Linked DNA regions of Homo sapiens. The protein of the gene in region 1 interacts with the protein of each later gene in a pairwise test. Each region holds a gene or a part of one and is shown on either strand. Other genes may lie near its edges.

Region 1 (9,031 bases):
TCACACTACCACTTTCTATGCACACATATGTGAACACACATGCACATACACACACACACACACACACGCAGTTAACTGTTTAACATACATAACCAATACCACTACTGCATTTAAAGAGGCAGCAATACACTATGCTAAGTTATCATTATTAAATTACACTATGTTGATGGCTGAGAATTACAATTGATCACATGACATAAAATAATCTTATGACTGAGACCTTCATTACTCTACCAAAACACTGGCTTAGAAGGTGACTTTACAAGCAGCAATCAAGCCATATGACATATGAAGCTCCAAAGAATTACCAGGGTCAATGACGGCATTTAAAAACATGCTGGAGCTGGGCATGGTGGCTCACGTCTGTAATCCCAACACTTTGGAAAGCCAAGGTGGGAAGATTGCCTGAGGCCAGGAGTTCAAGACCAGCCTGGGCAACATAGTGACACCCTGTCTGTATAAAAAAAAAAAAAAGTTTAAAAATTAGCCAAGTATGGTGACACGTGCCTGTAGTCCCAGCTACTTGGGTGGCTGAGGCAGGAGGATCACTTGGGCCCAGAAATTCAAGGCTGCAGTGAGCTATGATTGAGCCACTGTACTCCAGCCTGGGTGACAATGAGATCCTATCTCTAAAAAATATACAAAACTTAAAAACTAAAGAAAATAAAATCTTGCTGGAAATAAAATGAATAGGTTTATCTCACTGTTTTGAGAGACAACTGAGTTGGCCAATTTTAGGCTGCATTTCTTAAAGACAGACTAAAACAGTAATGATATTTGTGAGAATTATCCTAAAATCATTTATCAGACACAATAATGAAGACTCTTTCAATGCTATAACAATTCAAGAGTGAAACTTCTTTAGTACATCCATGCTGAGCACTGTCTGGGCCAAGTGCTGATGTTTCCCAGGTTATTGGAGCCTGTAACTATATTTAGGATATGATTTGAAGTCATCAAAAATTTACAAAATATTTATATTGGGTAGTAGACAGATTATGACATGCCAGATTATTTTTTATTTAGTTTTTAAAACCACAAGTCCTTTTCTAAAAAGCTAGATTTGTTTTTGATCAAGATGATCCAATCTAAACAATTTTTTTCAACCCAAACCAAAGACCAAATATTTTCTTAAAAAAAGGAAAAACTACTTGACAACCAGGCTGTTAGAACTTTTAAGCTTTAAAATCCATAGATTTTATTTTGTTAAACTAAGATTTATTTTCTGCCAGAAAGCAAATGATTTTAAACTACAAGTGCTTCAAATTCAAACTCCTCAAGGTTCAAAAGGAGTTAAACGTCTTCTTCGATTTTTCATCTGTCACATAATGAGTGCAAAATCATTATTGCCCCCACTTTTTCACAGAACAAACTTGTTCTAAATCCTGAGATCAATCAGTGGTGAAAACCAAGCTTAGATATTAGACTTTATCTTACCTTCCTACCTCTTCAAAAGGAATATAATCACAAGCAAACTATTTTTGATGTTCCAGAATTTCTTCTCTCTAATTAAACAGTCTTTGGTGTATATATCAAGTTTTATTTTGCTGTGAATACATTTTTCAAGTTTCAGATCTTTTAAGCATTGCCTGCTAATCATCAGACCAAACAAATCAAAGGAATCATGAATTCTGCTGTGTCTGCTGTAAGGCATTGGAAGTCAGTAGGAGGTATTTTAAATTGCTTTACTTCCATCACAACATTATGCTTCCCATTTACTTATTCAGAATAGTATGCTTTTTTCCCTCTAGGAAAATATCTTTCATATCAAATATCTTTAATTTCTAAGATATTTGTTATAAGATTAAAAATACCTTTAGAATAATTTTTTCACAAGTCTATGTAACAGACAAATAACATTTTTGAGTTCGTAAACAACGAGGCGGCTTAAAATAGGCTCTAAGTTTTTACTACCTAGTTAATTTGATACAAAGGTTATAGGAACCACCTCAGATACCCCATTGCTTCAGTCATTATAAAACACTTACAAAAACACATTCCAGTATCTACAGCAATTCTAAGAGCTCATTAGCTGTGAATTCAAAAGGTGATGTGGCTTAAAAATAGTTACATGAGAAAAAATGCCCAAGATTTATCCATCTGATTCTAACTAAAGATTTCTCAGCCTTTTAAAAAGTAGAATTCATGGATTAAATTGGTTTAGAAAGAAAATATTATCTTATGCAGAACTAATTACATCTCAGGCAAAACACTGCACATCACACCTTAAGGCTCAATGTACAACCAGGGCTTATTCCATTGAGTTCTAATTCCCACAGCACCCCACTGCTAGATACAATATTGGAATTGCTTTCCAACTATTTTTTCCTTTGGCATTTATTCATTCATTCAACAAGGATTTTCAACTGCTTATCTGTGTAAGGTAACCTTGACTCAGTATGGCACTGATGGTGATGCACACAGGCTGTGGAATCAGACCATGCAGGTTTGAATCCTAGCTCACTATGGCCATGGCAAGTAACTTAATGACTGTAACCCTCACTAGTTGCTCATCTGAAAAGAGGGAAAGATAATAGTCTGTAGTATGTAGAGGTGTTGAGAATATTCAGAAGAGATCATCCTTAGCACGGTGGTAAGGACTGAAAAAACACTTAAGAAATGGTAGTTGTTATTAGCAAATAATGGTGCTTACCAATTCCATTCAGAATTACTGCTGTTGGATATTCTTGGACCTGGTGTAAAGCATTCAGGAAAAAGAAGAATTCTTTTAAGCATCCCTAAAGTTAGACAGGTAGTTATAAGAACATAGTATAGAAAATAGCTCTAACGGCAGATCTTTAAAAACCAAAATTAAGAAAATTCAGAGAAGTATGAGGAAGTGAAAAAAGAACCTGTGTGGTTTTTCTCCCCCATCTTCCTGAGTCCAATATGGCCCTGCCTCTGTTCTATTTCATTGTAGGAGAAAAATATACAATAATTTCCATTTCTTTCTACTTCTAATTAATTCCTATAGCCTTTGGCTTCTCATATTATTAATTTTTAATGACTTTTTGAGGAAAAGAACATCCTAACATAAGGTGAAAATAGAGTAGCCAAAAGCACCAGTTGTGGCATAGAAGACATGAAATGATCTTTTTTTTTTCTTTTTGCTTCCTTTTCTCCCCAGAGATACTAGGATCTCAAAAGAATCATGAAATGATCTGAATTGTAATGGCTCCCATGGTCATTGCCTTTTCTGTGGTCTTTGGCAGGTGATAACTTCAGGTGGGATAACATTTTGTGACCAGCTATGGCATAAAGAGTGTTTTCTGTGTAGTGGCTGTAGGAAAGATCTCTGTGAAGAACAGTTCATGTCCAGAGACGACTATCCATTCTGCGTGGACTGCTACAACCATCTTTATGCCAACAAGTGTGTAGCCTGTTCCAAACCCATTAGTGGTGAGTTCTTCAGTTCAATATGATCATGCCATGAGACAGTTATGACTTTATGAAACACTATCTAGTTAATTTAGGAAAAGCAATTAAAAAATGGGAAGCTTTCCTTTATATTTCCTTTTGAGATAAACACAAGTGGGTGCATATATATGAGTATAAATATTACATGGATTCCTCAAGGAAAGTACAAGAGTATAATTTGGGTGACTATACTCTGTGAAGGTAACTACATACTAAACCTAATGGTACTGACTCTAACATTCAAGGAAGGAGGAGAACAGGATGAGCTGAGAGGTTAGTGCAGGCCTTCACGAGGAGATCTGCTTGCAGCCTCATTAAGTTTTGAGTGGGAGGAGAAGAGTACTAATAAATCAAAATCCTGCTTAATTCTAAAATAGGACCAAGCATCCTTTAGTTAGGAAGGTTTTAATTAAATTCCACTATTGTATAGAACATCTGAAGCTGTAATAATTAAGGTAGCATAGGTCAGTAATTAATTAAACTTCATTTTAAGATGCTTCTAACAAATGTATTACTCTCTTTTCTCTATTCACTTGCAATTATGAAGTGTGTTTATGAGTAGATGAAAGAAAACAAGATAGCATTTTACTGAAAAAAAAATGTGACATGATTTGAAAATAACATAATGATAAATCAATCCATGTTAAAGAGGTTTTCAAGGTAAAAAGAAATACATCTTTTCCTCAGAGACACTTTTAAAATGCTAATCCTATAATAAAGGAACTGAAACTAGCATGACACTTGAGAAACTCAGCAGCTATTCTTTCTGGCAATTTATAATCACTTAATAATGTGTCAGAACTGTATATCTACTTTCTATTCCTAGTATTCTTAGAACATATTTCAATTTTTAGTTGTTCATATACCATAGAATTAAAGATCATTTTATCCCTTTCCTCCTTCTTCATCTTCAAATATGTGGCAAAATAAAAGTTGAGTCTTCATGCACTTTCCAACCAAAAGAAAAAGTTTCACAGCAAACCCCACCTTGGCAGGCTTTCACTGACTTGCAAAGGGAGGGAGGGTGTCACCAGAAAAAAACAGCATGGTCTTATTTGTCTATATGGAGCACCATCTGTGTCAGGATCTCACACTGGCTCACGGGCTACATCTGGCAAGCAGGCTGTTGATGTTTGGCCTGAACATGTTTGGAAATAACTAATGTAAAATCCATCTCTGCAGCTAAAAGTAGAGGAAGAGCCTGCCATTGGGTGAGCAGACTGCCTCCACATTCCCCAGCAGGGTCACCATCATATGGAACTCGTGGCTGTCCAATTGCATGGGGCATGCCCTCTCTGTCCCTTGCACCCTGTCTGCATCACTCAGCTAGATCACCTCCCTGGCCCTTGCAAGAACTTGCCTTAGCAATCCCACACCACTCGGCTCCAGGGTCCATGCTTTTAATTACCCTGCTCTCCTGCCTTCTACAAATTTGACAATTCCTATAGCCAAGAGATCTCCACTGATTTTAGTTAGAAAATGGGACTTTCAGATATCCAACAATACCTGGAGCTCCAGAATCTCCCAAGTAAAATCTGCAATCACAGTCCATTTATTTTATAACAACACTTATCTTGAATTGGGACAGAAAAAAAAAGGGGACTTCAATGAGAAAATAAGGAAATTAACAACTCAAAATAAGTTTCAAAATTCTCTGGAGATCCAGATGGCTAATACTGATCTGCAAAAAGCCTACACAAGCCCTGAACTTGAGTTTCAATTCTGGTATATCACAGATTCATGTGCCTAAGTGATTTTTTTCATAGATTGTTCCAGATCAATCACTGGGCCCAGCTTTTTAAAGTTGAGATGGAAAAACAACGTTGTTCTGCACAAAAACATGAGGATGATCAAAAGTAAATAATCTGACCCAAAAGTAATCTAAATTTTACCCAAAAGTAATCTAAATATTATATATTTAATTTAGACTCATCAGTCCACAGGAAATGTCTAATAACTATCTTAATCTTTTTTTTAACTTTGTGATTGAGACACCAGAGGCTGAAATGCCTGCAAAAACTTACAACTCACTTTACTATTTCTTCATCTAATTGTTAAATATCTATAGGCCCTGAAGTACTGCTTCTTTAAAATTGAGCTATTTGAACTGATGTACCATTGGGAATTCTGATATTGTCACACGTCTTCGGAAAATTGGCATTAATCTGATTATTATGTCACTTTAAAAGCTAGGTATTCTTGGTCAAAGGATACACAATTTCAGTTAAACAGGGGAAATAATTTCAAGATCTATTGTACAACATAGTGACTATAGTTAACAACTATGTATTATATACTTGAAAATTGCTAAGAGAATAGATTTTTAAATGTTCTCACCACACACACAAAAAAGCATATGATAAGGTAATAGATATGTTAATTGCCTTGATTTAGCCATTCCACAATGCATACATATACAAAAACATGTTATATAATATATGTACAATTTTTATTTGTCAATTAAGATTAATCAATTATTTTTTTAAAAAGCTCTGAGAAATCTACCCATAAATCACCAAGTGTAATTTTTAAAACCCATCACATTGAACTGCTTCATTTGAACAAACTCCAGATATAGCTACCATATTTTCTCCTCCTTTGAGATAGGATTAACCTCTTAAACTATCAGGGATAAATGAAGCTGCTTGATGCAGTGAAAGGTGCTCTGGACTGAGGAGCAAAAGACTTGGTCCTCCCTGCCCCCACTGCTGTGTCACCATGGGTGACTAACTCACCTCAGGGGTGGGGGGCCTTCATTTGCCTTATTTATAAAACAAGCAGTTGAGCAGGTTGGCTTTCTTCCATCTCTGTTTATTTCAAGGAAAAGGAATTTCAAATGTTGTGGCTTCTTCAGAGAGTGATGCTGATGTTCCTGATCATATTCTTTACCAAAGATAAACTCAAACTTAGTTTCATGAGGTTAAAAGCAGAGACTCTAAAGACAGATGGCCCTGGCCTGTGCTTAAATCTTAGATCTGCTGCTTACTAGCTGGGTGACCTGGGGCAAGCGGTTAAACTTCTCACTTCTCAGTTTTTGTCTGCAAAGTGGGGCTGATGCTAATATCTGACCCCATGAAGGTAAGGTGAGGGCTGTATACGGTAACACACATAAAGGACTTAGAATAGTAATTGGCACACAGTCAAGCACTCAACAAATGCCAGCTCTTATTCTACTGACTTGTCAGAAACCTATGAAACCAGATAACACAGGTGTCAAAGACCTGCTTCATGAATGGCTTTCTTACTGCAAACAACCCTCATGACCTAAGGGAGTAAACATATTCCTTTTGGAACAGTTTACATACATCTCACATGTTGGTTCAGCCCTTTCTTAAAGTTGCCAGATGCTTCTACTTTTTCTTATTTGTAAAATTCCGGAAGAATTGCTTTTATATTTGCCACTTGTACAAGGCTTACTAATAAAATTAAGAAAAACTCATGAGCATCAAAATGCTAGACATGTAATAATTAGTTTTATGAACAGCATAATTTATGTATATACAGAACATTACTCTTGCAGTCAGCTTATTAATGTTTTGAATAACATTAAGGGAATTAAGTAGTACATAATTAATTTACATTTATTAGGAAGTAATGTTGATAGCATCATAGATAAGCAAGCTATAAATTTAATCAAGGAAAGTAGAGAAATTTGATGCAATTTTCTGTATGAACTACTAAATTATATATGAAGACATCAAATAAGTTTGTTAGGATGGAAACAAAAGTTCATTATCCTATTTAAGAAGAATGTATCTGAAATAGAATGCTATTCACCCTTTCACTTCACCATTCCAAATGGAGTATTTGGAAATTACATATGAATTACATAACTCTTTTAGCCTCACTCCATGGATGATAAGCAAATAATAGCACTAAGATTACTGGGAGAAAACATGAAATAAATAAAGACCCAAGCCTAGGGCATCTCAACCTCTTCCCAAACCCTAACATTTTCTCCTTTAATGTAACTTCTCAAAATCAATTTCTTGAACTATACCCTGGAATCACATTAAGGAGACAGAGATCAGACCCTCACCGAAGATTCAAATTCGACTACTTTTTAAAGAAACAGTATGGTTCAAGTGAGGCCCAAGTTAAAGTGGAGGAGGCTGACAAAGCTCTTAGAAACCAATCACGTGATAACGTGGCTTCATTGGCCAGATTCAACAAAAGCTGAAGCTGGCTCTGAGCAAGGTAATAAGGCCATCACGTTAGGATGGCTGAATGATTAGACAAAATCCTCTATTTGGTTATGCTTTCTAGAAATAGTGTCCCAAACCGTATAACCCCAGGACATATTCTAAGTACAACTAAGCACAGAAAAATGAGGGGAAAGAAGAAAACTAAAACTCATTACAACATTGGACATCAAACTAGGAAGCATACATTTATTTCCTTTTATCTTCATTTTGCAGCTAAGAAAACTTAAAGTCATATAGAGAAAAAGGGGAAATGTATTCATACTTAGATATCTCTGACTTCACAACCTATACCTTCTTTCCACTATGCTACACTGTATTGTCTTATCTGGCTTAGACAACCTTATCTGTTTCCAAAAATACCTGACTTGCATATTAGCATTCTGCCTTCTTCTGTTGATTATGGCAGAATTTGGCTGTGAATCTGGTTGGGTGGCATAGGTGTAACTTTCCTACAGTGGATAGTTCCAGATGGACACAGGGCCAGGAAGCAGCATTCTTTTTTGGGTTATTTGCCTCTGCGTTGTTTTGCTCATAGCTCTATCTCCAGTTCCTAGAGGAGCATCTGCTAGAATGCTCAATCTGTTCCTTGAAAGGATAGATTAATCTTTTTCTCCAATTCCTTTACAGGTCTCACAGGTGCCAAGTTTATCTGCTTTCAAGACAGCCAGTGGCATAGCGAATGCTTTAACTGCGGGAAATGCTCTGTCTCCTTGGTGGGTAAAGGCTTCCTGACCCAGAACAAGGAAATCTTCTGCCAAAAATGTGGCTCCGGAATGGACACTGACATCTAGGAGACAGTCCTTGCCCACCTAAAATCCATTTTGCCTTCGTTGTCACTAAAGCCAGAACTCAGTTGCGGTCTTATTTTTGACTTAAGTTTTAGAAAATATTCATGTAGTTTAGAGTGGAAAAGTTTTTGCACACATTTTGATCGAACTATATTCTAAGCACACAAAAAGCACAGTAGAACAGAAATGAATATATGCTAAATCACAAAGACAACTCTCCTTGCAAAATACTGCACTCTGCTGTTAGAAGCAGAGGAAAATATCTCTTCATAATCAAATATATGACATATACCTAGGAGCTGTGGATGTAATTACTGAAGAATGAGGTTTTTCATACCTGAAGAGTAAAAGAAAAACTAAGAGATCAAACTGAGAGGTATACATGAGGCTAGTGTTTGCATTCCTGGTTATATGTAATGTGATAAATTAGCTATGAATGGTAAAAGAACAAAACTGATCAGAGTAAATTCATTAGCAATTATCACATTTAAGAATTGTTATCATTTAAAAATCATCCTTTTTTTCACACATACTGACTGTAGAATTAAAAAACAAAGCTACAATTTGCCCTCATACACACTGCTTCCACAGCTTGCTAGTTCTGTGTTTACTCAATGGAAT
Region 2 (2,703 bases), on another chromosome or scaffold:
AAGCCTGGGCCCACGTTTGGCTCCATCCTTTCCACACAGCCTCTCACCTGGAGGTGTCTATAGCAATGGCTGGCCCATCTGTGACACCCTTCCTGGGAGCTTGAAGACCCAGGTGGCCTCTTCTCCAGTGCAAGATGGGGAGTGGAGACCAAGGGAGTGCCCTCTTGATCTGGGGCCCTTCACCCCCTTCCTTTCTTTGATTCTATCGCTGCTTCTCTTTCAGCCAACCCCTCCGCCAACTGGCTGCACGCTCGCTCTTCCCGGAAAAAGCGCTGTCCCTACACCAAATACCAGACGCTGGAGCTAGAGAAGGAGTTTCTGTTCAATATGTACCTCACCAGGGACCGTAGGCACGAAGTGGCCAGACTCCTCAATCTGAGTGAGAGACAAGTCAAAATCTGGTTTCAGAACCGGCGGATGAAAATGAAGAAAATGAATAAGGAGCAGGGCAAAGAGTAAAGATTAAAGATTACCCCCAGTCCTCCCTAGCTCTTCCCCATCTCACTCTTAGTTATGTGACGACTGCAAAGCCAGTGCTGTCTGGGATGTATTCAAGTGAATGGGGAAGGGAGTCTCTCTTCCAAGTCCTTTATCTGCACCTAGAACCTCCCTCCTTTCCTTTGCCCTTACCTGTCTCTCTCTTCTCTCTAGGTGTCAGGAGAAAGTTTTGTTGATTTAGAAGATAGAAATAGTTGGTTCCTAAGAATGTGATGGGCCACAAGGAAAGAGAGACCCCAGTCAAGCTCCTAGTATGCCCTGTAATTTTTCTGGGAAGTCCTAGCCCCTCACTTCCAGCTTGCCTGTTTCTTCTCTACACCCACCCAAAAGTCACCCAGGGACACTCCAACTCTACACAGCTCAGCAGACATCCACACACAGTAATGGGGTGAGCTCACAACCACCATTCAGTCAAGTGAGGTGACACTCCAGTTGCAGACCATCGCACACCAAATTTGGCAAAACAGCCCTCAGACTGTCAGGCAAGCCCGGGTTCTACCCCTAATGCAAATACCCACCAGGGAGATGTCTAGAGGCAGACTCCTGAGTGAGGTGTTGCAGCCCAAAGGCTGCAGCATTGCCATACCATTCCCATGGAGTTGCCAACTATTCTCAGGCCAAGGGCCATGGGGAAGATGGAGCAAACCTAGCCCCCAAGCCGGTGGGCTAGAAAGTACAAGAAAAGGCAGCACGTGGTTTTATGAAGCTATCTTAGGTGGAGCTACTCCCCACCTCCCACCAACATATACATTTTGTTGCAGGAAATGTTTAATTCCGCATGATGTTTCCCTCTCCTTCCAACAAAAGAAGGTCAAACTGTGGGTCGTAGAGCCTTGACAATGTTGTCCTCCTGTTCATCTGTGCACCACTTGACAGACTGTAGCTTCTCTTGCTCTCGACCGGCCCTGCATTCTTCCGCACCCTCCCTAGCTCTGAAATCAACTCTCTTCGGTCGTATCCACCTTGCACCCGCAAGTCAAGCCGCCCCTTGTAGAAAAATCCCTCCACCTTCCGTTCCCCGCTAGGTCAACCCCACTGTAGACAGGAAAGCCAGGCCAGGAGAGTCCGAATGAGAATTTATTGTGAATCGATTCCCAAGCTCCCTTCCGGGACAAGTGGTCTGGGACAGGGAGGAGCAACGGCCCCAGCGCGCAACGCTCTGCGCGTTCCTCCGAATCCCGTCGGCTTCTCGACCCACGCAGAGAAGCCCCGGGCTTGGCGGCTCTAGCCCCAGCGCCAAAGGAGACCCGCCCCAGGGCCGGGCTTGGCCTCCTGCTTCATGGGCCTGGATGCAGATCTGCGTGGCTGGTGCGTGCGCGCGCTTCTGGGAAACAGTCCCGCGTGCAAAGGAAAGGGGCAAAATGGCACCTAAGCATCAGATGGAAGCTTACTCTCTGCTTCCGTTCCTCCCCCTGCTCCCCTACTTCTCAGTCCCCTTCAATTTGTAGACTCTTGCTCCTGCTTCTCCTGATCCTGCAAGGGGACATTCCAGTAGAAGTTTTTTGCTTTGTCGGTGGCTGTCGTGAAATTGTGCTTGTGTTTCGTGATTTCTTTGGGGGTGATTGTCTCGCTTGTTTTCAGTTGTCGATTATATGGGAGGGTTCTGGGTGGGAGTGGGGAGGGCGAGGGGCCTAGAGCTCTAATTGTTTGTTTTGGAAGAAAAAAAGAAAAAGAACAAAAAATATATATCACTCTAGAAAATAAATCTCTCCTGTGTCTTATTCTGTGTTGGCTCTCTGGGCCTGACCATAGGTAGAGATCCCAGTTGTCGGGAGAAAGGCTTGGAAAAAAAAAGATTGCTGAGTCCAGGAGGTTTCTCCTTACACCCTGCAGGGCAAGGTCCCCTGCAGAGCTCTCTAGAGGTGGAGCTGAGAGCCAGTCCCAGACCCCAGGTCCCAAGACTACTGGTTAAACTGATCAAGAGCCTTCCAACAGGAGAACTGGAAAACGAGCGGGGAGGGAAGGAAATGTGGGTTGTTTGGAGAGGGCACAGGGTCTGGGGAGCAATGAGGTCCTGAAACCTCCTCATTGACTAGAGAATAGGAGGGAAGGTAGGTCTTCCTGCACCTCCTGGGGGTAGCTCTCCTCCCTCAGCCACTGAGAATGTCACCTTAGTTTGGCCGCTTTAAAATATGATGCAAGGGAGGAACACAGTAATTTCCCTCTGTTCTTCCCTGCAGTAGGGTGCCTAGGTCTAGACAGAGG

What was found. The genes of interacting proteins can lie anywhere in the genome.
Region 2: the proteins of FHL5 (region 1) and HOXB9 interact in binary tests that used the Homo sapiens proteins (3 or more experiments, as listed by UniProt).

Annotation. Positions count from the first base shown.
Region 1 is NC_000006.12:96,607,360-96,616,390, forward strand, and holds part of FHL5 (four and a half LIM domains protein 5), read left to right. Parts: intron 1-3,212; coding exon 3,213-3,399; intron 3,400-8,249; coding exon 8,250-8,413; 3' UTR 8,414-9,031. UniProt on the Homo sapiens protein: May be involved in the regulation of spermatogenesis. Stimulates CREM transcriptional activity in a phosphorylation-independent manner.
Region 2 is NC_000017.11:48,620,656-48,623,358, reverse strand, and holds the end of HOXB9 (homeobox protein Hox-B9), read left to right. Parts: intron 1-223; coding exon 224-459; 3' UTR 460-2,203; downstream 2,204-2,703. UniProt on the Homo sapiens protein: Sequence-specific transcription factor which is part of a developmental regulatory system that provides cells with specific positional identities on the anterior-posterior axis.